2 separate regions of the Homo sapiens genome follow, and region 1 is linked to region 2. The links come from fine-mapping of genetic effects on gene expression. A gene starts in region 2. The other region holds a variant in brackets. All regions are shown on one strand. Distances are from middle to middle. Region 1 overlaps MPRIP (myosin phosphatase Rho interacting protein). Region 2 holds the start of MPRIP (myosin phosphatase Rho interacting protein).

The links. PIP is the estimated chance that this variant, and not a neighbour inherited with it, causes the effect.
Region 1: its variant is fine-mapped to the expression of MPRIP in whole blood (TOPMed, PIP above 0.99).

The regions. Positions count from the first base shown.
Region 1 is chr17:17,187,811-17,202,418 of GRCh38, reverse strand. MPRIP (myosin phosphatase Rho interacting protein) reads right to left here. Exons shown (of 24, transcript NM_001364716.4): 24 at 9,776-14,608. PLD6 (phospholipase D family member 6) reads left to right here. Exons shown (of 2, transcript NM_178836.4): 2 at 1-1,424. Among named protein-coding and RNA genes, the nearest start is that of PLD6, 11 kb to the left of the region's middle. RefSeq lists a silencer at 9,695-9,784 and enhancers at 9,955-10,620, 10,621-11,288. The variant G/A (reference allele first, on the strand shown) is at 6,880.
Region 2 is chr17:17,033,501-17,050,524 of GRCh38, reverse strand. MPRIP (myosin phosphatase Rho interacting protein) reads right to left here and starts at 8,068. Exons shown (of 24, transcript NM_001364716.4): 1 at 7,554-8,068. The coding sequence starts at 7,676. LOC124903938 (a long non-coding RNA gene) reads left to right here and starts at 8,200. Exons shown (of 3, transcript XR_007065644.1): 1 at 8,200-8,254; 2 at 8,617-8,744; 3 at 10,768-11,182. RefSeq lists silencers at 6,076-6,370, 8,044-8,503 and enhancers at 6,182-7,381, 13,866-13,925.

The sequences.
Region 1 (14,608 bases), 150 kb before region 2:
CCTGCTTTGGCTGATGTGGGCCCTTTCAGCATCTCCCTGAGATTTCATCCCTCTCTCCATGTGGCACGACTGGGGTTGGTTGGGGCCTACAGTCTCCTTGTCCCTCACAGTCTGCCCCTGTCAGGGCTCGGTCCTCAGAGTAAGGAAAGGAAATGGAAGTCAGGAGGAAGGGAAGATGTGAGTGTGCGGTGCGGGTGGCAAAAGCAGCCTTCGGGGCAACCCCGTGAGCGTCATTGCCACCAAAGGCTGGCTGTTCCCTTGATTCCTTGCATAATTGCTCTTTAAAACCAGTATGCACGCCAGTGCCAAGCTCTTCAGCAGCCTGTCCTTGGGTAGTAAGTGCTGTGGTCTGTCAGGACTGATGGCCAGCAGCTGTTTCTATGTTGGGCTTTTAACTTTTTTTATTTTATTTATTTATTTATTTATCTTTTTTGAGATGGAGTCTCACTCTGTGGCCCAGGCTGGAGTGCAGTGGCACAACCTCGGCTCACTGCATCCTCTGCCTCCTGGGTTCAAACGATTGTCCTGCCTCAGCCTCCCGAGTAGCTGGGATTACAGGTGCCTGCCACAACACCTGGCTGATTTTTTTTTTGGTATTTTTAGTAGAGACAGGGTTTCACCATGTTGGTTAGGCTGGTCTCAAACTCCTGACCTCAAGTGATCCACCACTTCCGCCTCCCAAAGTGCTGGGATTACAGGTGTGAGCCGCCATGCCCGGCCGGGCTTTTAACTTTTAATGTCCTAATGTTAAGGTAATTTTGTTGTGTGTTTAGAAGTGACCTTACCTTTAACACCTGTGGAGTTAGTGCGTGCACATTGCTGGCTCAGCGTAACCCATCACGGGACCGGAGGAGAGGAGAGCGGGGAAGAGGAGAGCAGCTTCAGGCCGTGGTGTCTCCCACGTCTGTGTTCTTATTTGCAGCTCAGGGTTTGCATTCCCAGGTAGAACAGGTGTCGTACACTGTGAAATGTTCCAGGTTATTTGTTTATAATGTGTGTGTCATATACAGATAGCTCCGATGACATCTGAAGTTGTGACTTCATCATCTTGTCATATTTCTGTATGATGAGCCCCAGGGCCCATCCTGAGGTCTGCTAGCCATGTGCTTAGTCTCACCTCCCCAGCCCACGCTGGCATTACCACCCAGAGACCCTTCAGTGCTGTGTGTTTTTCCTTTTTAGGGTTACTTTTGACTCACAGTGTTAGGCAAGCCAGCTTGGAAGTTAACTTTTAAAAAAATTCAATTGAAGCTGTAAAGTATAATATATAGATTGGAAGTCACCAGAAATTGTTTTAGTTTGTGAATTCCCCCAGTGTATGTTCTGAAAAGAAAATGGGAGAGCTTGTAAAGCATCTCCTAAATGCGAAGCCGCGTGACCCTGGACTTCTGGCACATCTGAATAAACATGTTCTTATTCTGGAATGTGAGCGCTGGGTGTCTTTGCCTTAGCTTGCTGCTAAATCATTCAAGTAGGGGCTCCTCTTTGTTAAATATAATTTTGCGGGGGGGGGCAGTATACAGCTATTTAGAAACTGTTGGTCAAAGAACAGGAGACTCAAAGAGGAGTAAAACTTTAAGCTGTTATTTGGGTGAAGGAAATAAGGTATACGGTGGTCCATTTTTAAGACAAAGTGCCTTGAATCGGCTTCGGTCAGCAAACTACGGAAGAAACGGGTTGTACTAGGCCCCTCAGGCTAGCCGATGCCTTATCGGCTTCCCCGCCTGCCCCCTTCCCCCTTCCTTGGTTGCCCTCACCCGAACCAAAAAAGTTTAAAATGAAAGTTTACTGGCCTGCAAAATAGCTCGCTTTGTCTCTTCCTACCAGCTGGCCTAGCTACTTAGGTCATAAGTCAAATACTTGAAGAGCCCCTAAGCAGACTAAGATTGCAATGCACTGTGGGCTGTAACAAAATGCAGCAAGACAACCCTAAAAAAAAAATACCTAAAGCCCCCGCCTAACAACCAATAAGCAATGTCTGGGAAGATTGTAACCCCATAGTACTCAGCCTGTAAGGAAGGAGCCTGCACACTGGGGGATAAATTGCTTGTTGAAACTGTGCTGGGTGTGCCTGCTCATCAGACACCCGATCTTGGAAGACGTTATTAAAAGTATAGAAGATCCTTGGCCCACACGTAAAGACTGCTGTGCCAGTAACAGGCAGGCATGCCCAGGAGACCCTAGAACTGCACGCCGGCCTCTGCTCCAACACCTGAGGCGAGTGATGCTAGAAGGCAGGGGCTCGCTGAAGATGAGGGCTGGGGAGGGGGTTGTGTAGTGTGTGTGTCACCTGAAGCCTCTTTTTGCCTACAAGATTGTCTTGGCTCCTCTCAGAGAGAAACTTTAAAAGAAGTAATAAATTTGCCAAGTAGGCTCAGCAGTCACAAAAGAGGCTCTAGGAAGATTCCCCTCTAATTGCCCTCGTCTCCTGGGATGAGCTTTCATCAGCTTAGTGGTTTGGATTCAATGTTGTTAACTATGCGGGCAGTGATACAGCTTGAAAACGGTGAAACCCCATCTCTACTAAAAATACAAAAATTAGCCGGGCGTGGTGTCGGGCGCCTATAGTCCCAGCTGCTCGGGAGGCTGAGGCAGAATGGTGTGAACCCGGGAGGCCCAGCTTGCAGTGAGCCGAGATCGCCTGGGAGACACAGAGCGAGACTCCGTCTCAAAAAAAGAAAAAAGATCGGTCTGGGCAACATGGCAAAACTCCGTCTCTACTAAAAATACAAAAATTAGCTGGGTGTGGTGGTGTGTACCTGTAATCCCAGCTACTCGGGAGGCTGAAAAAGGAGAATTGCTTGAACCCGGGAGGTGGGGGCTGCAGTGAGCCAAGCTCACACCACTGCACTCCAGCCTGGGTGACAGAGCTTGACTCTGTCTCAAAACAAACAAAAAATTCTGATAGTACCATATGCCCTTAACAGTCTGCCCACACTGTTGAATATTCCTAGGTTGTTGGAATGAACCAATGCAATGATGCCATATTTTAAAGCACTATGTTGGTTCTATAGGGTTTTTGTTTTCTTTTGAGACGGAGTTTTCGCTCTTGTCACCCAGGCTGGAGTGTAATGGTGCAATCTTGGCTCACTGCAACCTCCGCCTCCCGGGTTCAAGCGATTCTCCTGCCTCAGCCTCCTGAGTAGCTGGGATTACAGGCGTGTGCCACCACCAAGTCCAGCTAATTTTTTTTTTTTTTTTCTTGGTAGAGACGGGGTTTTGCCACGTTGGCCAGGCTTGTCTTGAACTCCCGACCTCAGGTGATCCACCTGCCTCGGCCTCCCAAAGTGCTGGGATTACAGGCATGAGCCACCACGCTCAGCCAGTTCTATAGGTTTTTAAAGCAACCCACAATTTTTTTTTTTTTTTTTGAGACAGAGTCTCTCTCTGTCGCCCAGGCTGGAGTGCAATGGCGCGATCTCAGCTCACGGCAACCTCCGCCTCTCGGGTTCAAGTGATTATCCTGCCTCAGCCTCCTGAGTAGCTGGGATTACAGGCGCCCACAACTACGCCCGGCTAATTTTTGTATTTTTAGTAGAGACGGGTTTTCACTATGTTGGCCAGGCTGGTCTCGAACTCCTAATGTCATAATCTGCCCACCTCGGCCTCCCAAAGTGCTGGGATTACCAGTGTGAGCCACTGTGCCGGGCCCAATTTTTTTTTTTTAGTCTGATCCAACAGAGTATATTCATGTCAATTTCAGTTTACAATCCTTGCAGTCCCATCAGTTTGTGAGATTATGCCCAGGTCATCCACACTGGAGGTCTGAAAATGTTCTTAGTTGTACTCTAGTTTCACTAGCTGCATAGTTTTCTGGGATAGTCTCAGTCACTTGAATCCTTTAAAGATGAAGCCCAAAGAACCATGGAGATGACTTTAGAGGCATTAACAATGAGCAGCAGAGGCAGCCCTGGGTGGATCCCATCTGGTGTCACTGGGAGTGACATGCCTGAGAGACATCCTACTTTGGGTCCAAGTGGAGGTGCTGACTCAGGGCAGCTGCTACAGTGTGGCTACTAGAGGATCCTTCTCCAGTCTCAGAAATTGAAGCTGAGAATGGACCATTTTCAGAAATTTCATCATGAAGATCCTTACACTCAAAATCTTAAGGTGGCTGGGCACGGTGGCTCATGCCTGTAATCCCAGCACTTTGGGAGGCCAAGGCGGGCAGATCACGAGGTCAGGAGATCGAGACCATCCTGGCTAACATGGTGAAACCCCGTCTCTACTAAAAATACAAAAAATTAGCCGGGCATGGTGGCGGGTGCCTGTAGTCCCAGCTACTCGGGAGGCTGAGGCAGAAGAATGGCATGAACCCGGGAGGCGGAGCTTGCAGTGAGCCGAGATGGTGCCACTACACTCCAGCCTGGGCGACAGAGCGAGACTTCGTCTCAAAAAAAAAAAAAAAAAAAAAAAAAAATCTTAAGGTGATGATGGGTTTCCACATGACTCTTTTCAAGACCACAGCCGACGCCTTTAAAATCATGACTGGCTTATGTGTCGACATGTATTCTCACACTCAAATTTCAGAATAAGGCATGAGGTGGATGTATGTGATGGCACCAACTCTGCTTTCTCTTTTCTAGTGACCACTCAGGCCCTGCCTGCACCTATTCTTACTCATTTTAGGGCTCCATCCATTACTCTGAGCCTTCAACCTGCAGCTCTGCTTTTCGCTGTCTGCAGATGCTGAAGAAAGGCGTCACTAAAGGCCTCGGGCTGCTGGCTGCGATCAGCACCGATGGGAGCTGCCAGGATCCAACCCAGTTTTTAAAAACACACTTGATCAAGATTCACATACCATAAAATCTGCACATTAAAAGCATGAGATTCAGTAGTGGGTTTTAGTATATTAACAAAGTTGTGTAACCATCACCCCAAAAAGAAACACTGTTCCAGTAGTAGTCACTCCCCACTCCGTACTACCCTCCAGCTCCTGGCAATCACTAGTCTACTTTGTCTCACAGATTTGCCTACTCTGGGCATTTCATAGAAATGGAATCCTCTCTGCAGCCTTTTGTCTCTGCCATCTTCACCTCGCGTCATGCTTCAAGGGAATCTGTGCTGCAGCATGTTTCAGCACCTCATTTCTTAGTTTGGCTGAATAACATTCCATTGTATGGATAACAAATTTTGTTTGCCCATTCATTCGTTGGTGGGAATTTGGGTTATTTCTATCTTTTGGCTGTTATGAATAATGCTGCTATAAACATTTGTGTACAAGTGTTTGCACAGACATGTTTTCATTTCTTTAGTATACACCTAGGAGTGAAATTATTGGGTCATATAACACTATTTAACCATTTGAGAAACTGCTAGACTTTTTCCAAAATGGAAGTATCATTTTATATTCCCACCAGCAGTGAATGAGGGTTCCTTTTCCTCCACATCCTTGCCAACATATGGCATGATCTAACTTTCTGATCATAGCCCTTCTAGTGGGTATGGTGTCTCATTGTGGTTTTGACTTGCATTTCTAATGACTTAAGATGATGAATGTCTTTTCATGAGCTTATTGGCCATTTGTATGTCATCTTTGAAGAAATGTCTATTCAAATCCTTTGCCCATTTTTTTGGGTTGTCTTTTTATTGTTGAGTTTTAAGAGTTCTTTGTATATGTTCTGGATATAAGAATCCCTTAACAGATACATAATTTGCAAGCTGGGGACAGTGGCCAACGCCTGTAATCCCAACACTTTAGGAGGTCGAGGCAGGAGGAATGCTTGACCTCAGGAGTTCGAGACTAGCTTGGACAACATAGCAAGATCTTGTCTCTACCAAAAATAAAAAATAAAAAAAATAAAAATAAGATTAGCTGGGCATAGTGGCACACTCCTGTAGTCTGAGCTACTCAGGAGGCTGAGGTGGGAGGATCGCTTGAGCCTGGGAAATTGAGGCTGCACTCCCGCCTGGGCAACAGAGCGAGACTCTATCTCAAAGAAAAGAAAAAGTCATTTGCAAATGTTTCCCTTCTTTGGGTAATAGGTGTTGATGGAATTGTTTGCAGCATGTAAGCTTTTGATTTTGGTATAATCTATTAATATTTTTACAGTTGTTGCTTGTGCTTTGGTGTCATAGCTAAGAAACCATTGCCCAACCCAAGGTCACAAAGATTTGCTCCTATGTTTTTTTCTGTCATATATATAATTTTTTTCTTTTTGAGACAGTCTCACTCTATTGCCCAGGCTGGAGTGCAGTGGTGCAATCTCAACTCACTGCAACCTCCGCCTTCCAGGTTCAAGCGATTCTCCTGCCTCAGCCTCCCAAGTTGCTGGGACTAGAGGCGCCCACCATCACGCCCAGCTAATGTTTGTATTTTTAGTACGGATGGGGTTTTGCTAGGCTTGGTTTCGAACTCCTGACCTCAAGTAATCTGCCTGCCTCGGCTTCCCAAAATGTTGGGATTACAGGCGTGAGCCACTGCACCCGGCCATTCTTGTATATTATATTCCTATCACTCATACTTAGGTCTGTGATCCGTTTTGAGTTAATTTTTGTGTATGGTGCAAGGTAGGAGGCCCAACTTCATTTTCTTTTGCATGTGGATGTCTAGTTGTCCCAGTACCATTTGTTGAAAAGGTTATTGTTTCCTCACTGAATGGTCTGGGCATTATTGTTGAAAATCAATTGACTGTAAATGTAAGAACGCTTTTTCTGAACTCGCAATTCTGTTTCACTGATTTATCAATATCTCTCTTTATGCCAAGACCACACTGTTTGTTTGTTTTTTTGAGACAGAGTCTAGCTCTATAGCCCAGGCTGGAGTGCACTGATGCAATCTTGGTTCACTGGAACCTCTGCCTACTGGGATCAAGCGATTCTTGTGCCTCAGCCTCCCAAGTAGCTGGGACTACAGGCATATGCCACCACGCCTGGCTA[G/A]TTTTTGTATTTTTAGTAGAGACAGGGTTTCCCCATATTGGCCAGGCTGGTCTCGAACTCCTGACCTTGTGATCTGCCTGCCTCAGCCTCCCAAAGTGCTAAGATTACAGGTGTGAGCCACTGCGCCCGGCCTTTTTTTTTTTTTCTTTTTTTTGAGACAGATTCTCGCTCTGTCGCCAGGCTGTTATGAAACAGTGTTGGATTTTCAAATGCCAACTGATTTTAAAAATTGCATTTACATAGCTTTACAAAAATAGCGTATGTTAAAACCATAGGAGGCCAGGAGCGGTGGTGCATGCATGTAATCTCAGCACTTTGGGAGGGTGAGGCAGGTGGATCACTTGAGATCAGGAGTTTGAGACCAGCTTGACCAACATGGTGAAACCCCATCTCTACTAAAAATACAAAAAAATTAGCCAGGTATGGCAGTGTGCTCCTGCAGCCCCAGCTACTCAGGAGGCTGAGATGGGAGAATCACTTGAACCCGGGGGGTGGGTGGTGGTGGAGGCTGCAGTGAGCTGAGATCCCGCCACTGCACTCCTGCCTGGGTGACACAGTGAGACTCCATCTCAAAAAAAAAAAAAAAAAAAAAAAAATTAGACAACTGGAATAGCAGACTGAAAATGTGTATCTTTTTATGCCTGTACTTAACTTTTTTTGGCTATGTTTTATACATTTCTTGACTTTTTGTTTTGTTTTTTTGAGACAGAGTCTCACTCTGTAGTCCAGGCTAGAATGCAGTGGCGCGATCTCAGTCACTGCAACCTCTGCCCCCCATGCTCGAGTGATTCTCTCACCTCAGCCTCCCCAGTAGCTGGGATTACAAGTGTGTACCGCCATGCCCAGCTAATTTTTGTATTTTTAGTAGAGATGGGGTTTCACCATGTTGGTCAGGCTGGTCTTGAACTCCTGACCTCAAGTGATCCACCTGCCTCGGCCTCCCAAAGTGGTGGGATTACAGGCGTAAGCCACCATACCTGGCCTCTTAAATTGATTTATTGGTAGAATCAACTTTTTTTCAATGTTATCTGGATAAAAGTTTAGATTCCCACAAATTTCACCCATTTCATTCTAAAGGTTGTGAATATATTGTTTAAAAAACCCAGTTTTTCTTTTTTGAGACAGGGTCTTGCTCTGTTGCCCAGGTTGGCAGTGCAGTGGCACGATCTAGGCTCACAGTAACCCCCACCTCCTGGGTTCAAGCAATTCTTGTGCCTCAGCCTCCTGAGTAGCTGGGATTACAGGTAGGCGCACACCACCATGCCTGGCTAATTTTTGTATTTTTAGTAGAGACAGGGTTTCCCCATGTTGGCCAGGCTGGTCTTGAACTCCTGTCTTGAAGTGATCCACCTGCCTCAGCCTCCCAAAGTGCTGGGATTACAGGCATGAGCCACTGCGCCCAACCTAAAAATCCCAGTTGTTTGTTATTTAAAATTTATTTAGTGGGTCACAATCAGAATTTTTAAAAGTGAACGAAATCATCAAAGTATATATAGTAAGGGTGCATTATTTTGTTAAATTTCAGGTTGTTGGCGTGTGTGTATATTGGGTCATGATGTAAAATGCAGTTTCTTTTTTAAGCAAAAGGTAAAATTTTATTGTAAATAAATCTATTAATAAGAGGGACAGGGATGGGGAATTACAAGACCTTGATTAATAAAAGCATCACCACCATTAGCACTTCTCGTTGTCCCTTTAGCCCCTGAAGGCTTCTTTAACTGGGGCAGTGTACCTTAATTAGATTCTGCATGTAAAGTATTTCTTACAATGGCTTGTGTGTGAACAGGTAAAATCCAAATTTTTATGTGAACTACCGTAATTCTAAAATGCTGAAAACTGGCCAGGCACAGTGGTTCACACCTGTAATCCCAGCACTTTGGGAGGCCAAGGCAGGTGATCACCTGAGGTCAGGAGTTCGAGACCAGCCTGGGCAACATGGTGAAACCCCATCTCTACTAAACACACACACACACACACACACACACAAGCCAGGTGTGGTGGTGCATGCCTGTAATCCCAGCTACTTGGGAGGCTGAGGCGCGAGAATCGCTTGAACTTGGGAGACGGAGGTTGTAGTGAGCTGAGATCGCGCTACTGCACTCCAGCCCGGGCAACAGAGCAAGACTCTGTCTCAAAAAAGAAAAAAAAAAAAAATCCACTGTAATTCAAAAGGAGGTAATCAGGCCCTGGCACTGTGTTCATGCCTGTAATCTCAGCAATTTGGGAGGCAAAGGTGGGAGGACTGCTTGAGTCCAGGAGTTCGACACCAGCCTTGGCCACACAGGGAAACCCCGTCTCTACAAAAAATGCAAAATTAATTGGGTGTGGTGGTGCATGCCTGTAGTCCCAGCTAGTTGGGAGGCTGAGGTGGGAGAATCTCTTGAGCCTAGGAGGCAGAGGCTGCAGTGAACCAAGATCATGCCATTGCACTCTAACCTGGGTGACAGAGTGAGACCCTGCTCCAAAAAAAATAAATAAAATAAAATAAAGGCCGGGCACGGTGGCTCACACCTGTAATCCCAGCACTTTAAGAAGCCAAGGCGGGCGGATCATGAGATGGAGAGCATCCTGGCTAACACGGTGAAACCCCGTCTCTATTAAAAATACAAAAAATTAGTTGGGCGTGGTGGCGTGCCCCTGTAGTCCCAGCTACTTGGGAGGCTGAGGCAGGAGAATCACTTGAACCCCGGGGGCAGAGGTTGCAGTGAGCCGAGATCCTGCCACTGCACTCCAGCCTGGGCAACAGAGTGAGACTGTCTCAAAAAAAAGGAGGTAATGAAACTGAAATCAACCCACTCTAGAGCTGGAGGCTACTGTTCAGTTTGCCTTTTGACCTGCGTGCTTATTTTGCAGATGTCTCTCAACTAAACAAAATCTCATTACACAGCATGCAAAGGGTGATGCAAAAATAGTTTATTATGATATAGTTTATGTAAAGTTAGGTAATATTTACAAAATAAAAATGATCAGCTACATCCAGGGAATCTAGCATGTCACACAAAGGAATAAATATTCTGACAAAGTAACACTTCAATTGTAGTGAATCGTTGATCACAAACTAACTTTGTAAAAAAAAAAAAAGCCTCAAGACGCCCCTCCCCCCCCCCCCCCCAAAAAAAAAGCAGCAGCTCAGCTGGTCAGGCTTTCTTGAGACACTGGCCTGACAGTGGATGGCCCACCCTACCCCGGGGCTCTACTTCTTAGACCCGAGCGCTGTGCTGGAACCTAGGGAGGCGGTACTCATTCAGCCCTTTCTTCTGCACACAGCTTTTAGTCTGTTTGTTAAGCGTTACCACTTAGCATTAGAACAGAAATGAAACACCAGTTGGAATTATACAAGCTGCTTCTTTTCATCATGTGACAGAACGTTTGTGAGAACTGCTGGAATCACAAGCTGCGGCAGAGGTGACTGAAGCATTTCCACTCCGTTCACATATAGCGCCCCAGCTTGGCACAGTAGGTTTTGCCTTTGATAACGAATTTTGACACTGACCCTGACAGAAGGGCACAGCTGTGAGAAAAATCATTAAGAATTGTAATTGTTGAGGAGCCACTTGGATGCTTTCTACCTTTTATAAATTGTACCCTAGGAAAACCACATGAAGTAATTCTTATACTTAACTGGTTTTGAATCCTAACAGTATGTCAGTAGATACGTTGTTAATACTAAAGGTAAATCCTAAAATCCTTTAAAATCCATTTTAATTGAAGCTTGTGATATAAATGTAACACAGTAGTGAACTGAGTGTTCTTCACAATCTATTCCTAGCTGTCTATAAAACTAAGGATGTGACACCACTAACTTCTCAAGGGCAGTGGGGGGCAGGGAGTGATGGGCGTGACCGTGAGGCTGCCAGCGCTGTGTGTGTGGCTGCGCCTCCGAAACACCCTTTCCTCAGGTGGCCGAGCTGCGCCTGGGGAAGGCCCCCACTGAGGCTGTGCCCGAGGAACATGCCGTGTCCACCCCTTGGGACTTGGACGTCCTCTCAGGCCATCCTACATTACTGGAGTCTCCAATTCTTAAGTATTCTGTGACTCAGTGTTTCCTTACCAATCTGACAAAAATAGGTGCTGTAAAAAACAGCTGCATCTAAGTTCTGCAGCCTCCACGGAATTCCAGGATATGACCAAAGGGCTGGGGAATCCAAACAGCTCCAGTGCTCCACAGAGCCCTGCCCAGTGAGTGGTCTTGAAGGTTCTCAGAAACTGCACATTTAGACCCTGATCCCAGAACTGTGCCTTCAACCAAGTCTCCCTAGGATAGCGTTAAATTACTGTGCAGAAGTCTGGTCAAGATGGCACCATCATTTTCTTAATTTTCCTGATTTTCCTTAAGGACTCTGGCTCTACCAAGAAGAGGCAATAGAGAATTCTTTCAATGAAACAATGTATGGATACAGGGCTATCGTTATTTTGGATATTGTACACTTTAAAACCATCTGTTAGATGACCAAACGTTTTACAAAGATGCAGCAGTCATTAAAAACATTTCCTTATAATGCTGGGCGGGCTTCAACGGTGCAGTCAACCCTGTTCTCCCCATCTTAAAAAGGGGTGTCTAAGATTTTTTTAAAAACCCATACAAACTCTGTCACAAAAATCCCTGCAGTAACTTCTCAGTAATATTTACATTGCTTGCTCTAAATAATATACAGGTTATTTTGAAGAAAATAAACACAGCTGCTTTTAAATACAGAGAAATTGCAAGCTACACCAAGCATGCAGTAGCTTAAGTATTCACAAAGTACTGCATCCGAACACCTAAGGACTCGGACCCAAGACGTGTTCAGACAGAAACTTGCCCCATCTCTAGGGATGATCTAGTGTTGAGCTACTGACTCCCCTACCCTGCCAAGAGCCTTTTCTTTTGTTGAAGGATTTCAGAGAAGGGAGATGTCTTCCCTTTACAGAGAAGCAAGAATACTTGAAGCTCACAGTTCTGAAAAGGGCAAAAGAATGAACAGGGTCTTGTCCCTGGCAGACAAAATTTGAGATAACTGATAATGTTCCTTTCCATGCTGGGTTTATGCCAGGCTTTCCTTTTAAAGAGCCTACAGCACGGTATTACTAGCCTTCAGCTCAGGCTGGTTCTTAACTGCCCATCAGCTGTGGACACATGCCCTTGCTGAAAGCTGTTTGGCCCAAATGTGTAAACACAAGAACTGTACAAAGGTAAAACGAAGAGCCCCCTCTAAGGGGTGGCTGCAGAACAACCTGCCGTAGCTGCTGTGCAAGGAAGAACGGCCATCTCAGAACGTTCTGTTGCTTGGCATTGAGAACAGTGGTGGCCTTCACCTTTCGATGTGAAGATGACCGTTCACTGGATGAAAAATCTACTGAGTTTACATCTTTAAAGTGGGTGGTGGCATGGAGAAGCCAGGGGAAGGAAGAAGTGTGCTTGTATATGGCACCTCCAAGCCTGAAGTCCGTGGAAAACCCACGTTCAGCTGCTATTACCTACTGGAGACGCTCGCGCTGAGCGGGCTAGGAACCTCTCTAGAGAAGAATGCTGGAGGGCAGGAAAGCCCAGGAAGGTGAAAGGTGCGAAAACAGTGGGTAGATACCTTAATTCTAAGGAACTTTTTAATAAGCAAGTTCCCAGCAGCTTTCTTCCCAAGTCCTTTTAGAAAGTGGGCTCTTTTGCCAGCACTGAGAACCTTCGCTCACTTCAGCTGAAAGGAGAAAACACAGGGCTGATCCCAGCTTGCAGGGAAGGGGAAACGAAACGTTGTCTCTGGCCTGTGTCACCTCTTAGTGCTCCAACAGGGACCTTAGGGCAAGTTACAACTTGTTTAGAAAGCAAATTCCTTGTACAACAGACCTATGGCTCCCCTAGCCAGGACTTTTATCTCATGCCCTAAAACGAATGAAGTTCCCAGGAAAGTGAAGCTTCTCATCAACATGACAAATTTTCTTTAAAATTTCAACATCAAATTCCTTTGAAGTATAATATCATACATTTCCATTCTTTATAGAACTTTGACAATACTTAATTTCTTTCTCCCTTAGTGACAAAGGGGTCACAGTTTTTTTTTTTTACCGTATCTTATAGGCCAGGCGTGGTGGCTCACGCCTGTAATCCCAGCACTTTGGGAGGCCGAGACAGGCGGATCACGAGGTCAGGAAATCGAGACCATCCTGACCAACATGGTGAAACCCCGTCTCTACTAAAAATACAAAAAAATTAGCCAGGCGTGGCGGCAGACACCTGTAGTCCCAGCTACTCGGGAGGCTGAGGCAGGAGAATGGCATGAACCTGGGAGGCAGAGGTTGCAGTGAGCCGAGATCATGCCACTACACTCCAGCCTGGACAACAGAGCGAGACTCTGTCTTGAAAACAAAAAACAAAAAACAACCCCCCTCCACCCAAAAAAACCCCCACTATATCTTATAAAGGAAAGTCTTATAAATTCCAAGCTTCTTTAGGACCATGTTAGGCAAACTCTTCTTTTCAGGAAAAGTTAATGTTGATGTGTCACATTCTTTTCTAAGTGCGAACTGTCTTAGAACTTACCCAAGTCAGTGAATGAGTAGCTGGGAGAAAGGGGTATGTGGCCAGCCATTAAAGTCACCCAACATACAAAGGAGCAGGGGCCAGCAGAGCTTCCCCTACACCCCAAATTAGGCTGCAGGTCATATGCAAAACCTAGGAGGCCAAACAGGATTACTTGTTTGTGTAGGGACCTGGCTGCCAACAGGGACCCCACACAGGGTGGCCTTGGCCTCCAGGGCCCTGCAACACCTAGCGGGCTCTGCTGTGTCCCAGCTCCGTGGCACCCGGCAGCCTCCCAGGAGACAGCCAGGCAGGAGTGATGATCAGGATTGTGTTCAGTTTTCAGCATGTTTCCATGTACCCAAAAGTTAAGAGTCCCATCTACCTCTATAGTAAAACAAAATGATAGTAAATACATTCCATAAAAATGTTTTTCAAGCCATCAGTTTTGTTTCCGGCCTTATCTGTCAGTATTCCTTTCAGGCACATTCTGAGATTCACAACTGTGTTCTTTAAACAGCCAAAATTCCCTCTTCTCCAGCATGAGCTGGAGGGTCAAGGGGTGATGGGAGCTGGTGGCTGCTGCAGAAACAGGTTCTTGCTGGGCCTTCCAACTCACTAAGCAGGCTGTGGGGCCTTGCTCTCCATGCTCTTCTGCCTTCATACTTGCTGAATCCGAAGGCAAGATCCTCTCCGATGTTACCTCTTGTTCAATAAACCTGCAAATTCGCGATACTGCCACCTCTAGTCGCCCTGGGATGTCCACTGCATCACCCACTTAGCACAGGCCCATTATGACTCCCTGAAGCACAGGCTTCCAGCTCAGAGGGCAGCGCACTGTCTCCACCCCTGCCCAATGATCCACTCAGACCCGGGAGGCTGTGGACAGCGCGTCCTCTGAAATGCTGGTCTCCACACCTGCCTGGGGCTGGGGCACCATGGGTGGATAAAGAAACTGACCAGCAGAAAGTGACTATTCTGCACGTGCAGGCGTGCACACAAGGTAATTACCCACAAGCCTGCAGAAACTCACACGAGCACAACTGCCTCGCTTTCCCATTCATATGTGTGGCACAGCTTACTGGCTGGTGCTAGCATACTACACATAAATACATTTATAGGAAAATAATTAAAATGCTGAAGTCTATCTATTTGAACTTCTTCCTCATCGGTAAAGCTGGGAAAGCTCACTACTGTGTAGCTGGTGCCAAGGAGCAGCCTGAGACCCCGCCTGCA
Region 2 (17,024 bases):
CCAGGGCTGCCACCAGGACTGCGGGCAGCGGCCACACCACCAGGCTACTAAGCAGTGGGAAAGTGGCTCGTCTGAGCTGAAATGTGCTGTAACGTAAAATGCGCACGTCATAACTTTTTTGCATGGTGTAATGACAGTATTTTGGATATATCTGGTTAAATAAAACATAATTAAAATTAATTTCACCTCTTTTTTTTTTTTTTTTTTTTTGAGACGGAGTCTCACTCTATTGCCCAGGCTGGAGTGCAGTGGCGCAATCTCAGCTCACTGCAAGCTCCGCCTCCCGGGTTCACACCATTCTCCTGCCTCAGCCTCCTGAGTAGCTGGGACTACAGGCGCCCACCACCACGCCCGATTAATTTTTTGTATTTTTAGTAGAGACAGGGTTTCACCGTGGTCTCGATCTCCTGACCTCGTGATCCACCCGCCTCGGCCTCCCAAAGTGCTGGGATTGCAGGCGTGAGCCACTGTGCCCGGCCCCGACTAATTTATTGTATTTTTAGTAGAGACGGGTTTCACTGTGTTAGCCAGGATGGTCTTGATCTCCTGACCTCGTGATCCGCCCGTCTCGGCCTCCCAAAGTGCTGAAATTACAGGCGTGAGCCACTGCACCCGGCCCCTCTTTTTACTTTTTTAACGTAGCCGCTGGAAAATTTAAAATTTCCTATGTGGCTTCCATTACAGTTCTAGAGGACAGGGCTGGTCTGAGGGGTGGCACACTGTGCCCCTGTGCCAAATTGGCCCACCAGCTGCTTTTCTAAGACCCCAAAACCAAGAATGGCTTTTACATTTTTAAGTGGCTATATCCTACACAACCTCCTCGATTTTGCCTGTTGGCCTGCAAAACCTAAAATATACAAGATTTCTTTTGAGTAAAAGGCTCCGGGATTTGATGAAAGCTTGAAAACCACCGACCTGGTCCAACTGTGTCATTCAGGTGGGAAAGAGTGGCTTGGGGAAGGAGTTCCCCAGGATAAAAGAAGAGTCCTTTATAAAAAAAATTGCCAAGCCTTGGTCTAGACTCTAGAAACAATCAGATATTCACTCCAGGTGACACAAGGAGCAGAAGGCAGGTGTGTGTGTGTGAGAGAGCGATTCTTGTACAGACAGTCCCTGACTTATAATTTTGACTTTGTGATAGGTCTGATGGGTTTTACCTGGATGTACCCCCACCATAAGTCCCATCATAAGTCAAGAAGCATTTGGAAGTGAACAATTCAGGGGCATTTAGTACATTTCACAAGGCTGTGCAACCAGCACTTTTATCTAGTTCCAAAACATTTCATCACCCCCAAAATAGAACCCCAGTCTCATTAGCAGTCATTCCACATTGCCCACCCAACCCTCAGGCTCTGGCAACAACCGATCTGCTTTCTGTTTCTACAGATTTACCTGTTTTGGACATTTTACATAAATGGAATCACACAGTATGTGACACATGACCTTTCATGTCTGCCTCTTAGCGCAATGTTTTCTAGGTTCGTCCATGTTGTGGCATGTCTCAGTACTTCGCTCCTTCTTAGAACTGAATGATATTCCATGGTATGGATACACTATGATTTGCTTATCTACGCATTAGTGGATGGACACTTGGATTGTTGCTGCCGTTTGGCTATTGTGAGTAGTGCTGTTATGAACATTTGTATACAAGTATCTGTTTGAATACACCTGTCCTCAATTCTTCTTGGCATATACCTAGAAGTGGGAATGCTGGCTCACGTGGTAGGTTTTATGCTGAACTTTTTGAGAAACCCCCAAACTGTTTCCACAGCAGCTACACCATTTCATTCCCACCAGCAACGTGCAAGAGTTATAACTTCTTCACATCCTCGCCAACATGTTATATTCTTATTTTTTTAATTCTAGCCATCCTGACAGGTATGAAGTGATATCTCACTGTGGTTTCAATTTGGGTTTCGCTGATGACAACGCTGAGCATTTGTCATGGTGCTTGGCCGTCTGAAATGGGATTTTGTGTGTCTGAGATTTTTGACACGCTCCCTGCCAAGCAACACACCAACTCCTGTTACAGATCTTCTACAAGGGGGGGATGCGAAATCTCCCCGTTGTTTCTGAGATACACATTAAGTCAAATCAGGAAGTCCTATGCCTTAGAACTTCTACGAATGTCTACAGGAACAAAGGGAAACCTGATGAAATGCTTCCCTGAGACCTCGTCCTGGCCCACACCCTCTATGTCTGAAATTCCCACCTGAGGCCCCCGCAGCTTTGGAGCCTTGGCAGTGGGGTATGGGCACAGCAAGGGCAGAATCACACCAGGAAGACTAAGAACCCTGGGAGAGATCAAGACCGAGCTCATTTCCAGATGGGAAAACAGGCCTGAGCAATGAAAATGACCCAGCCAAGGTCCCACAAAAAAACAGGGCTAGACAAAGAAGTAGAAACAGGCTTGCAGGCTCCTTCCACAGAGGCAATGCCTGAAGTTACACAGTCAGCAGGAGAAAGAGACATCACCCCCAGATCAACACGCGGATGTAGAAGCTGAGCACCCTGGGTTCCAGACCTGCTTCTCCCACTAATGCCCACCCCTCTGATTCACCTCCCAGCCTCTGCACCTGCTCCCCTTTTGCCTGCCCACTACATGGGGGCTTCCTAGGCTGGTTCCTCTCCTTTCACTCTATGCAGCCTCCTGAGTGCTCACACTCACTCCCATGATTTCAGCAACCACCTCCACATCCAAGACTTAAGAATTCCAACCCAGCCTCCCTCTACGTCCATAAGGGTCAAACTTACCATATTATTTTTTACCCCTCCCCATCCCCCAAGTTTACTCCAAATCTGTTCTTCTCAATCTCTGTTAAAGGTACTTCTAACTACCCCAGGTTCCTCAACACCCACCTCTGATCAACCAACAACATCCTGTCCCTAGAGTCTGATTCCTTCCATCCTCACCAGCACTGATCTGGAGAGAATGCCTTGATTGTAATTTACCCAGTTTAATAGCCTCCAGTAGATCTTCTGCCTTTAACCAGAATTATTTTCCTAAAAAACAAGTCTGATAGATTAAAAAGCTAAGTATAAAAATAGCTATAAAAGAATATGAGAAATTATTTTACAAATCTTGGAAAGTAGGCCTTAAACATGACATTAAAACTACAAACTATTAAAAAAAAAGACCAACTGCATTTATATTATGAAAAAGAAAAATAACCACACAAAAAAGACAAGTGGCATTCTGGGAAAAAATACCTGCAATACGTGGCAAGCATCGGATTAATATCTAGTTCAGGGTCAGCAAACTATGGCTCACAGGCCACACATCATGCCAGCTGCCTGTTTTTGTAAATAAAGTTTTTTAAATTTATTATTATTATTACTTTTTTGAGAAGGAGTCTCACTTTGTTGCCCAGGCTGCAGTGCTGTGGCACGATCTTGGCTCAATGCAACCTCTGCCTCCTGGGTTCAAGCAATTCTCGTGCCTCAGCCTCCCAAGGAGTAGCTGGGATTACAGGCATGTGCCACCACACCCAGCTAGTTTTTGTATTTTTAGTAGAGACAGAGTTTCACCATGTTGGCCAGGCTGGTCTTGAACTCCTGACCTCAGATCATCCACCCACCTCAGCCTCCCTAAGTGCTGGGATTACAGGCATGAGCCACTGCGCCCTGCCGGTAAATAAAGTTTTACTGGAACACAGTAACTCATTCGAACTCATTCGTTAATGTGTTGTCTACGGCTGCCTTTGTGATGAGACGGCAAAGTCTGCACAGTTGTGACAGAGACCATATAGCCCACAGACACTAAATTATATTTACTATTTGGCCTTTTACCAAAAAAGTTTGCAGACCCCTGACCTAAAGCACTTATAGAAAGCTCCTACAAATCAACTGGGGGAAAAACTAACCTTACAGAAAAATGGGCAAGCAATACGAACAGGCAATCCACAAAAGAAACAAAAATACTCAGTAAATACTATAAAAAAGGCTCAACTTCATGAGTAATTAGGAAAATTATTAGAGAATTAAATCATTTGATAATATCCAGTCCTGGAAATGTTATCACACAGCCTTTTTTGGAAGGCAATTTCGTGGTATCTGAAAAAAAAAATTTATGCGCTTGATGTCAACCCAGCCATTCTATTTATAGGTATCTGCCCCCAGAGAAATACTTGCATTCATGCATGCACGCACACACACCCAGAAGTATTTATAAGACTCTTTGCCGAAACATTCACTGTATGTAACAGCAAAACCCATAAGCAACCTTGATGTCTATCAATAAGGAAACGGGTTAAATTATAGTACACTCCTAAAGGCCTAATATGCAAAATGGTTCTGGCATCTTTATATGCAACACCATGAAAAGAACGTAAAGATATGCTGATAAGCAGAAAACAAAAAATATGTCGCAGAGCAAATACATGCACACAGTTCAGGATAAAAAGGTTTAACTGTATATTTGAGCTGGGCACAGTGACTCACGCCTGTAATCCCGGCACTTTGGGAGGCCGAGGCAGGCGGATCACGAGGTCAGGAGATCAAGACCATCCTGGCTAACACAGTGAAACCTCGTCTCTACTAAAAATACAAAAAATTAGCCAGGCATGGTGGCGGGTGCCTGTAGTCCCAGCTACTCGGGAGGCTGAGGCAGAAGAATGGCATGAACCTGGGAGGCGTAGCTTGCAGTGAGCTCAGATCGCGCCACTGCACACCAGCCTGGGCAACAGAGCGAGACTCCGCCTCAAAAAAAAAAAAAAAACTGTATATTTGGGTCCGTATGTCGCTGAGAAATGCACAGGAAAACTGGAGGATAAATGACACTCTGTGAACAGGGGCCTGGAACAAGTAATAAAGGACGGTCACTTATCACTTATCCCAGATTACTCCAAATTTCCGTGAGGAGGAAAAGGCAAAGAACTCCACTGCTCCAAGCCAGCATTCTCAAGGCACCTCCTGCAACATAACTATCCCTGACATTATTGTCCTCATCATGTGCTCATGGTGTGGCCACTGTAGACCCTGAACAGGAGTAGGGGAACTAACATTGGCTTCAGAATCCTGGCTCCATCCCTGAACTGGGCAAGTCACTTCCCTTCTCTGGGTTTCAATCTTCTCACCGGTAAGAGGAAGTGGTTACATTAGCTGATCTCCAAGTCCCTTCCAGGTCTGATGCCATAATACAGTCCCTGCAAGAGGTTTCTGTGCCTCTCTAGGGGAAAAACAAACAAACAAAACCCACAGCTGAGGAAATAAACCTCAAACCAAAAGGCTCAGAGAAATGTCTGCTCCTGGGAAGATGACATCTCCAGAGCAAAAGCCGGCCAAGGCTGCCCACCACCTCCCTGGGCCCAGTATCCTCTCCTCTTAAGGAGGGAGTGGCCTCGATGGTGGCTGATGTATCTTCCAGCTTTGACGGTCTAAAATAAGCTCCAGGCTGGGAGGGGCAGCAGGAAGCAGGGGCTTGGGGGAGACTGATGGGAACCGATTGGTTGAGGTTTTCTAATGGAGCCATAAGGATGAGAGTGAGAGGGAGGGCCGGATGCAGAGAGCAGCAGAGAAGGCTGTTGGCAACAGCCCTGAGTCTCCCTCCTCTCTTTTCAAGAGCAGTTTCTTCCTGAAAGATCCCAGGAGGTAGAATGCTGGGCTAACCTCTCCCAGCACAAATAACCCCACTCATTATTTCAGAAACTACCATTCCAGTTGTGCCCTGAAGGTCTCAGGCCTGTTTCAAAACCCACAATTCAACTTTGAATACAGTGAGAGTACAGTATTTTAAGTTTGCCTCTCCCCGTGAATCCAATTAATAATCAACAGATTAAAAAAAATCTTAGCAGATTGGACTCAAACATGCAGATTCCATCCTAGTTTATCTAAGCTTAAGAATTCGAAAACAGCCCCTATGAGGTGTAAATTTACCAATTTTGACAGTTGCTTAGAATAACCAGGAAACTTACAAACCTCTCTCAGAACAACCCTTGCCCAGAAACTTCTTAAAGTGGCAGGTTTTTTTGGTTTGTTAAATTGTAAGAGAAAAAAGTTTCATAAAATATCATTTCTTGCTTTTCACAAATGCTCAGTGAAGGAGGTAAGCCAGGGACCAGGATTCCCAATTTACAGATAAGGAAATTAAAAGATACAGAAGTAAAGGGATTTGTTCAAGGTCACACAGCTGGAAGTGACAGCCAAGACCTGAAGCAAAGTCTCCTAACAACTCCTCATCGCATAAACTGTTTCATCCAAAAAAGCATCCAGATGAGAAGAAGGAATCAAGTTCTCCTTTACACTCCAAAACACCCTCCGAGGTAAATGAGTTCTATCCGTCCCAAGCTGACCGTCCTTAAAACCCTTGGTATCTTAACCATCTATGACTTTGCAGCCTTGAGTGTTTCGTTAAGCTTTTGGGGTTTAGATGAAAGGAATCTTTTCCTGGCAGTTGGAAACCTGACCTCAGAGAAAGGCCCCGTGCCCCAGGCCGTAACCCCTGCCCCACCACCCTACTCCAGTCGGCCATGTAAACAAGTCAAACCCTGGGTGCACTGAAGTGGCATTAAAAACAACCAGGCCCGTTCACTCGTTTTCAGTCTAAGGGGTTCTTCTGCGACAGGAGTGGCTACAACTAGGTCACACTGGACTGGAATGTGAAGGGACTTCCCCTGGCTTCATTCAGGAGGCTGAGAGAAAGCTCTGAAGAGGATGGAGATGATGGCCGTGGGGAGGGTACCGAGGCACATCCCAAGGAGGTGCACACAAGGCTCGGAATCCTGGAACACTAGGAGTTCAAACAGCAATCACTGCAGGGGTTCCCAAGGGCCATGGGGGCTGCAGCCAAGCCTCTTGGAGCCTTTCATCAATACAAATTCCCCATCTCCCCAGTCACTCCAGGGCGGGGGCCCCAGAACTCTGTGTTTAATGGCTATGACTCTAATGCACGTTTGGGAGTCATAACTAGTTCAAAGCCCTGTTTGACAGTTAAGGCTGGGAGACAGAAATCAACTTTCCCGAGGACCCACAGGTCTCCTCACCCCTCGGCCAGTGACCAGGGAACTGGTCCCAGCTCCCCGCTAAACTACGGCCTGCCAAACTAAGTTCAAGAACAAGACCCTCCTCGCCAGATTTGGACACCCCTTCACCTCTCTCCAGTGCTTGACAGTGACGATGATTCAGAATCGGGGCAGGCTGCGTCCCACTAGACGGAAGCCCACAGTCCTCCCCAACAATCCGACCCCTGGGCCACTCTGGCTGGACAAATCCAAGTCCAGTCCCAAGCCAGAATCTCAGGGGGGTCCCGTCAAGCGGCATGCAATCCCTAAGCGCTTTGTTCCTACTAAGCGAAACCAGGCACTTTTGAGTCACCCAAAAAGCATGAATCACACAGCCGGGCAATGGGAACGGGAAAGGATGTTATTTTTCGGCATACTCGAGGATTTTCCCTTTGTCCCAGCTCTGTCAATGCACTTCCCGTCCCCGTCCCCATGCCCCAGGACTCGCGCATTTCCCTGCTCCATTTTTATTTTCCCTGCAGCCCTTGGCGGCGCCCCGGCCGCCGACCCGCGGCTCCCAGAACGGAGGTGTCCGGGCCGGCCCCAGTCGCTCACCTGCGTCAGGTCCTCGTCGTTGAGCAGATGCGACTCGCGGGGCTTGAAGCAGTTCTGACACTTGCTCTTGTTGAAGATGTTGGCCTGGAATTTCCTGCACGGGTTCTCCTTGGCTGCCGACATGGTCGGCGCGGCGGCGACGGCGGCGGCGGCGGCGGCGCAGGCCTGGCCGGCCTGGCGCTCCCGGCGGGCTAGGGGCTCAGCGCGGCCGCGCCGCATCCCTCGCCGGCCCCGCCGCAGGCCCGGCCCGGCCTCCTTCCCGGCGGGCGGTTCGCTGCACGCGCCGAGGCTCCTGAGCCGCCCGGGCCTCACAGCGCGCGCGACGCCCAGCTCCCGCCCGCACCGCCGCCGCCCGGCCGCCGCGGGCCCATGGACGCGGCCTCGGGCCCGCTGCTTCCCGCTGCGGCCCGCCTCTCAGGCTCCGGTCGCCGCCGTCCCGGCTCGTCCGCGCCGCCGCAGCTGCCCTCGGCGCCCCGCGGCCGCTGCAAATGGGACCGGAGCGCCTCACGCACTACGGGGGCGGGCGGGCGGGCGGGCGGGCGGGCGGCCGGGCGCGGGGAGGTGCCGGGGCGTACGGGGCGGGGCCGCGCCCGACGCGATCGGCAGCCCCACCGGCCAATGGGGTTGGCGCGCTCTCGCTAACAAAGGAACCTCTGGGCCAATGGCAGTCGGGGGCGGGACCGAGGGCCGCCGAGCGCAAGGTAAGTTGTGCAGGCCGGGAAGGTGGGGGCGCCGGCATGGGACGTTCAGGTTTGGTGGACTGGCGCCGAGGCCGGCCGGGCTGACAGCTGCAGGGCCCGGGCGGGGGATGCGGGGGAAGGCGGAGCCGACCTCAGGCTGCCTCTCTGCAACCCCCTCGCTCCCAGGCTCGCCTTCCCGCGCCCACGCTGTACACCCAACGGAGGCATCTTCCCCAAGCCCAGCTCGGAGAGGATTAGTTTAGCACCTACTGTGTACCAGGCCCCCTCGTAGGAGTCAGTTAGCGTCGGGAAGGGCTGGATACTCCAAGGGCTCGCTCATTAAAGGTTCGCAACCTCTCCTTTCTCATCCCCATTTTACATAGGAGGAGACTGAGGAGCAGAGAAGTAACAGCGGGTAGTATTTCAAGGGATGACTAAGAGAAGATGTCAGCGGACTTGAAGAGCTGTCAGCTCCATTAGGGGAGATGAGCGAAGGCTGACTCTCTGCCAGGTGCTGAGCTAGGCATTCTTTCCCCCATGATGTGCTTGAGGAAATGAAGGGTCAGACACCTGGAGTAATTTGTGTAGGATCACTCTGCTAGGAAGGGGCCGAGCTGTCACTCCCGTCCTCCATTGTCCAGCCTCCTGGCCAAAAGACAACCTGGAAAAGGCTGTCAAAGGCTCAGGCAGAAGGTTGCAGGAGCCCAGAGAGGGGAGAAATGCGCTCTTTAGAAAAATTCGGGTGGCTTCAAGGAGGAGGGGAAGTTTAAGTGGACAGTGAGAGGGTTGAGTGTGGCTGGAAGTGGAGATAGGGGAAGAAGGAGCAAGAGGGATTGGAAGAGGGCTCTATCACCCAGGCCTTGTATTCCAAGCCCAGGCGTGCACATGTCATCCCACTGGCAGCTGGGAGTCATGGTGAGTCTTTAAACAGGGGGGTGAGCTAACCCAGCCTTCACGGAGGAGGTGACATTGGAGCATGTGGTAGTGGCAGCCACAGCAGCTGTCGCTCAGGGAATGGAGGAGGTTTTAGGAGGAGAAGTAGCAAATGCTTCCAGAGCTGTGTACTTTTCCACGGATCATCTGGTAAATATCCCAGGGAGGTGGATTTCAACTTAGTGTAAGAAAATGCTTTTCCTCAAAAGGGAGCTGTGGGAAGGCAGATCAAAGTCCTTTGGCAGCCTAAGGGGGAAAGCCCAGCTCCACCAGGCAGGAGCTCTGTGGCCTCGGGCAAGTCCCTTAACCTGCCTGGTGCCTCAGTGACCTCATGTACAAAATTGGCATTAATTAATTAATGTGAACATTAAATGATATAATGCTTGTTAAGTAGCATAATGTTAATTGGTGAATCTAGGCAAAAGGTGTTTATTGTACTATTCTTTTTTTTTTTTTTTTTTTTTTTTTTTTTTGAGACGGAGTCTCGCTCTGTCGCCCAGGCTGGAGTGCAGTGGCGGGATCTCGGCTCACTGCAAGCTCCGCCTCCCGGGTTCACACCATTCTCCTGCCTCAGCCTCCCGAGTAGCTGGGACTACAGGCGCCCGCCACTACGCCCGGCTAATTTTTTGTATTTTTAGTAGAGACGGGGTTTCACCGTTTTAGCCGGGATGGTCTCGATCTCCTGACCTCGTGATCCGCCCGCCTCGGCCTCCCAAAGTGCTGGGATTACAGGCGTGAGCCACCGCGCCCGGCCTTATTGTACTATTCTTGCAACTTTTCTGTTGCTTTAAATTTTTGCAAAATAAAAAAGGGACGGAAGACTGACAATTCTGCCCTGCAGAGAATACTCAGAAACTGATAGAAGAGGTGGCCACTGGGGAGGGGAGCTGGGTGGTTGAGAGGTGACCTACTTTTAATTTTCATTGCAATCCCTTTTGTTTCTGCTGAATTTAGTATTGTCTGCATGTACAACTTGTTTAAAAATATATATATACATACATATATATATATATATATATATATATTTTCTTTCTTGATGTCCTGCCCATTCCTCAAGGCCACCTCCCTTAAAGTGCTCAGCATGTTCTGCTCAGGTCAGTAGGCACATCCAGCACCTGCACTGGACTGGAGGGGTCCACAGTAGGGGCGCAAAGAAGAGTTTCATTCAGCAACTCAGAGGCAGCCTGCCCGGCAGGAGCCCACACTCAAGCAAGTGGAGACAAACAGAAACAGGAGACAGAGAAGTTCAATCCGGGGTGTTGTGGGGGCCCACACAGGGGCACCCAGCCCCGTAGGCAGCTTCAGGGAAGGCTCCTGGAGGAGGCAATGCCTAGGCCGAGTCTGGAGCTGAGTAAGACCCAGCCAGAGAAGGTGAAGGGAAAGACACGTCAAACTGGGGCACCAATTATAGAGTCTCAGGCCTTGAAACCAAAGGGTGTGTTCATGAACAGAAGCAGCTTTCTATCACTGGGTAGTTCAGAGAGGCAGGAGTGACCAGCATTGAGAGGCACTGGGAGGAGTAGTGGATGGTGCAAGCCTAGCCTCTTCAGGGAGACAGGTATGGTTTTTGTTGTTAATACTATTTCATCTCCATTTTATAGAAGACACACACGAGGCTCAGGACATATCAGGAACTTGCCTGTGGTCACAATTATAGATCCTACAAGTGAAGATTTGAGCCCACACAGGCCAGCACCGGAGCTGCCTGGGCCAGGGGCAGTCATCAATTTTGAATTTTTTTCGGCTGAGCACTTAGGTAAGGGCTGCTGATCTGGAGAATGAATCAGGGGCAAGGACTGAGAGAGCTGCAGAGGAGAGAGGGTAGCAGCCTGACTAGGATAGGGTCAGTGGGAGGCAAGGGAATGAATTTGGAAAATGTTTAGGAGGTAGAATCAATTAGTTGCGCTCCTCTCCAAAACCCTCACGGTAGAGTGGGGTCTTGGTTGCTACTCCATTTCCCCTGTCTAGTTCAGTGCCTGGCATAGAGCAGGGGCTCAAAAACACCCCATGGGGGTGCAGTGGCTCACACCTGTAGTCCCAGCACTTTGGGAGGCCGAGGCGGGCGGATCATGAGATCAGGAGTTCGAGACCATCCTGGCTAACACAGTGAAACCCTGTCTCTACTAAATATACAAAAAATTAGCCAGGCTTGGTGGCAGGCGCCTGTAGTCCCAGCTACTAGGGAGGCTGAGGCAGGATAATGGCATGAACCCGGGAGGCGGAGCTTGCAGTGAGCCGAGATCGTGCCACTGCACTCCAGCCTGGGCGACAGAGTGAGACTCTGTCTCAAAAAACAAAACAAACAAGAAAAACACCCCATGGGTGAATGGATGAAAAGTCATCGTTCCACCTTGTATTGTAATATCTCCTCCACCAGATTATGAAATCCATACCGACACAGTCTGTGTCTCATAACCTTGGCTTCCCTTTCCAGGGGCCTAGAACAGCACTTTGCATGAAGTTCAATACTCAGTGTAAACATGTAAAGATTCACTGGGCTGTATGCTTTTTTCACTGCATTGTGTACACCTCAATGTATATTGTTTATCTCAAAAAAGCAAATAAGCAAGCAAGCAAGAAAAGGCCGCTCAGGTGAGCCCCAAATGCAGGTAAGTCTTGATTTGTGGCTCTGACTGCCATCCTGGGAAGTTTTCCCTGTGTCCTGTTAGGGAGCAGAATTTACACACAGATACCCAGAGGTAACCACTATTTTGATCTCCATCACCATAGATGAGTGGAATCCGCTGCGAGCTATGCCTGGCTCTTCTCATTCAACAGTATGCCTGTGAAATTCAATCCACACGGCTACTGTATATATCAGTACTTCATTCTTTTTCATTGCTGCCTGGTAGTCCCTTGTGTGGAAATACTACAATTTATCTGTCCATGTTCCCGTGGATAGACATTCAGGATGTTTCCAGTTTGGGGCCATTATGAATAATGCTACGAGTATCTTCGTGCTTGTCTTTGGTGGACATAAGCACTTCTTTCTTTTTTTTTTTTTTTTTTGTTTGAGATGGAGTCTCGCTCTTTCGCCCAGGCTGGAGTGCAGTGGCACGATCTTGGCTCACTGCAAGCTCCGCCTCCTGGGTTCAGGCCATTCTCCTGCCTCAGCCTTCTGAGTAGCTGGGACTACAGGCACTCGCCATCACGCCCGGCTAATTTTTTTTGTATTTTTTTAGTAGAGACGGGGTTTCACTGTGTGAGGATGGTCTCGATCTCCTGACCTCGTGATCTGCCTGCCTCGGCCTCCCAAAGTGCTGGGATTACAGGCATGAGCCACCGCGCCCGGCCAAGCACTTATTTCTATTGGGAATACCCAAGACTAGGGATGGCTAAGTTTTGGGAAGTGAATGTTTAACCTGATGGGAAACTGCCAAGCAGTTCTCCACACCTGAGAGCTGGGCTCTCATCTCGCCCTTTTTCTGCTAATCATTGATAATAAAATTCATCTGGAGGAATGTGTGAATGCTACAGGTTTCCAGGGCCTCCCATGGAATTGTGTATCTGTTGGAGTGCACGAATCTATTTTGTCATTGCTATTGAGACAGGGTCTTACTCTGTCGCCCAGGAGTGCAGTGGTGTGATCTGGGCTCACTGCAGCTTTGACCTCCCAGGCCCAAGTGATCCTCCTACCTCAGCTTCCCAAGTAGCTGGGACTACAGGAGTGTGCCACCTTGCTTGCTAATTTTCCTGTAGAGACAGGGTCTCACTATGTTGCCCAGGCTGGTCTCGAACTCCTGGGCTCAAGAGATCCTCCTGCTTCAGCCTTCCAAAGTGCTGGGATTACAGATATGAGTCACTGTGCCCAGCCGAAGAATCTGTTTTTAAAATATTTCTGCTAGGCAAGTTTTGGAAATAGTGGGTGGAGCTGTGGTTCTCAAATCCTGGAGGATTAAAAAAATTCCTACTCTGGAGGCTGGGCGCGGTGGCTCAGGCCTGTAATCCCAGCACTTTGGGAGGCCGAGGCAGGTGGATCACTTGAGGCCAGGAGTTCGAGACCAGCTTGGCCAACATGGCAAAACTCATCTCTACTAAAAATACAAAAATTAGCTAGGCATCATGGTGCAGGCCAGTAATCCCAGCTACTAGGGTGGCTTGAACCTGGGAGACAGAGGTTGCAGTAAGCCGAGATTGTGCCACAGTGCTACTACAGCCTGAGTGACAGAGCTAGACTCTGTCTCAGAAAAAAAAAAAAAAAAGGATTCCTATTCTGGTCCATTTCCAGATATTCTGATTTAATTGGTGTCTGTAAAGGCTACTTGGAGGATTCTCATAACCACACAGGAGTTGGAACCACTGGATAAAGGAGGGTGGAAAGGCGAAGGCTCTGGTGTGGTGTGTCTCAGCCAGCTATTGCTGCAGAACCACCCCACCCCACAAAGCAGAGTGGCTTGAGCACTATTTTCTTGTCTCTCTGGTTCTGAGAGTGGACTGGGCTCTGCCCGGCAGTCCTGCTGGTCTTGCTTGCTGTAAGTGTGGCTGCATGGTAGCTGGGTGAGGTCACTGGAGGCTGGACTGAGACAGGGCTGGCTGGACCTTCGTCCTTTCCTTGCAGCCTCAGAGCCTCTCCTTTCCCCATGGCTTCCCCTTCTGCTCTGCGTGCAGCACCTCAGTGTTCCCCAGAGCAAAGAAGCAGAAGTACCCATCCTCCTTAATGCCAGGCCTGGCACTCGACCGCATGCCATTAGTCAGCACACGGCACAGGATGTCCCAGACTCGAGGTGGGGGGCCCACAGAGGCGTCAGCCCCAGGAGACGTGGTTCACTGGGGCCACCATTGAGACTAGCTACCATAAATAGTAGCCATGTCATACGAGTATTGTGAGGACTAAAGAAATTTATATATGTGACGTGCTTAGAACAGTCCCTGAAACACGGTGTGAGCTCAAGAACTATCAGCATGTATTAGTATGCCTATAACCCCTATGCCAGGGGTTGGCAGATTTTTTCTGTAAAGGGCCAGATACTAAATATTTTAGCCTTGTCAGGCCATATGGTCTCTGTCGAAACTACTCAGCTTTGATATTGTCAAGTGCAAGCATCCATAGACATTACATAATGAAGGGGCGCAGCTGTGTTACAATCAAACTTTATTTAAGTAGTAAGTGGCGGGCTGGATTAGGCTGTTTCTTGGGTCCCCTCTTTTCCTGTTGCTCGGGCCTCCCTCTCCTGGACAGTCTCTCTGAAATGTTGGTCTCCCTGTCCCAGACAGCACCTGTCAGCATTCAAGAATTCACAACCATCGAGCACTGACAGTGTGCCAGGCTGTGTGCCGTGTGCTGGGCATTCGTCACGTCGAATCTCACTAAGTCCAGCTGTCATCATTTGAAATTAGCTCTGGCAGCGCTGGTGGTGTCTGATGGGAGTCCTTAGTGCCCACCCCCCATCATCCATCAATCCCCTGAAAGCCACCCCAAATAAATATATACTTTGTTAATGTAGCTTCAAGAAAAATCTCCTAACCCCTTTCCAGTTGCCACCCCAGAATTAGTATTATCCTCAGCTTACAGATGAGAAAACTGAGGCACGGACAAGGCAAGTATTCAAGGTCATACAACAGTAAATGGTAAGCCTGGGATTCAGACATGGGCAGTATCTTCGTGAGCACTGCTCTACACAACCTCCAGCCCAGGGAGCTGCACGTGGCCCTGACAGCATCGGGGGCTGGGCCCCACCCTTCCCTGGAAGCAAGACCACAAGATCTCGGAGGCCCTTTCCAGCTGTGACGCCATGAGGCTTTTCTACAGCAGGCACCAAATGACAATAGTCTCCAGATGTGCACTAGGAGAGAATGTAGTGCACTTGACACAGAAAGTCCACCAGAAGGGCAAGTTGGACATGTTATTTAAATTTTAAGTCTGTGACCACTTTGACATAGTGATTCCACTTCTAGAAAGATAGGTTGTAAAATTGCTCACACAGGTACACAGATATTATGTACAAGGATGTTCATTCCATCATTGTTCTTAATAGCAAAAATTGGAGATACTCCAATTGTCTATCATTAGAGGATCGGATGAATAAATTATGGCTCTTTGATACAGGGGAGTACCATGGGGCTAGTTGTTAAAGACTGAGATAGTGTTGACGTGGCCATCCATCTCAAAATATGGTGAAGTGAAAAGCTGTTGGAGAAATGGTGTGCATTGTAGTAGCTCATCCTTGTTTTAAGAGTGTGTGTGTTAGCAATATTCACAGTTAGTGTTTACATGGAGAAGGTCAGGGGCACATACACCTAACCGTTCATTGCAGTTAACCCTGGGAGGTGAAAGAATGGGGACTCACACTTAAGCTAGAGATTTATATCATGTTTAAAATTTTTAATAAAAGCTTTTGTTTTCTTACTAATATAGAGAAAATCATATAATGAAGGTGGATGTATCCATTACCCAGCTTCCATATCAACTCAGGACAAGTCTTGTTTCAACCATACTCCCTCATCTACTGTGTGTGTCTGTAAAAGATAAGAACTATTTTCAAAAAGTAGCCACAATACCATTATCATACCTAAAAAAACAATAATTCTTTAATATCATTAAATGCCCAGTGAGTGATTTCCAGTTATCTCCTAAAAACAGAAATTATTTTTGTAATAAGAAAAAAAAGGCTGAAAAAGATAAAATTGTCAATCCAAAGAGCAGATTAGTACAAGTTTCCTGGAGCTTTGTTTAGTGATACTTATCAAGAGCCTTAACAATGTGCTTACCTTTTGCCCTAGTAATCCCAACCTGTGAATTTATTCTAAGAAGAAAAAAGAACATTGAAGAGGTATACAAACATTGTTCACTAGAGTGTGCAGTGTCTGTTACAGAGAAGTTGTTTGAAAACTATTTGTTGAGGCCAGATGTGGTGGCTTACATCTGTAATACTAGTACTTTGGGAGACTGAGGCAGGAGGATTGCTTGAGGCCAGGAGTTCCAGACCAGCCTGAGCAACATAGCAATACCCCATCTCTACAAAAACATTTTTTAAAAATTAGCCAGGCATGGTGGCTCATGCCCATAATTCTAACTACTTGGGAGGCCAAGACAGGAGGGTTGCTTGAACCTAGGATTTCAAGGCTATAGTGAGCTGTGATCACATCACTAAAACTCCAGCCTGGATGACAGAGCAAGACCCTATCTCAAAAGAAAAAAAAACAAACCACAATTTTTTTTGAATTTGAAGTTGAGCTCCTGCTGTGGTTTGCAGCTTTGTTTGTAAAAGAAAAGCTGAAAGTCATGGAAGTGTGTGACATTAGGGTACTGGCTAAATAAATGAGGGCAGATCCATAAAATGAAACATTGTTCTGTCATGTAAAATCAGATTCTAATAATACACATAGATAACCACCGCTTCCAAGAGGCAGAACTTCATCCTCATCCTCTAATGGACTATGGAAAGAAGAAAAACAGTCCTTTTACAGTGAAGAAACTCAGCAGATGCTCCCTCAACATCGCTGGTGGTAAGTCTTGTGGCTACTGGGTACCCCCTGATACAATGACAGGGGCACCTCACCTCTGTGATCTTTTACCCAAAAACTAATAACCTCAGTCTCATGAGAAAAACATCAGACAAACTCAGATGAGGGGCATTCTACAAAATACGTGAGCAGCACTCTTCGAATGTGTCAAGGTCGTGAAAAACAAGAAAAGACTCAGAACTGTTAGGGACCAGAGGAGCCTCAGGAGATGACGGAGACTGAATGCCATGTGGGATGCCGGATGAGATCATGGAACAGAAAAAGGGCATTAGTGGGAAACTGGCGAAATCCTAATAGAGTCTGTCGTCCAGCTAATAATGTTTTACTAATGTTAACTTTTTAGTTTTGACAAATGTAGCATGATTATGTAAGATGTTCACATTAGGGGAAGGTG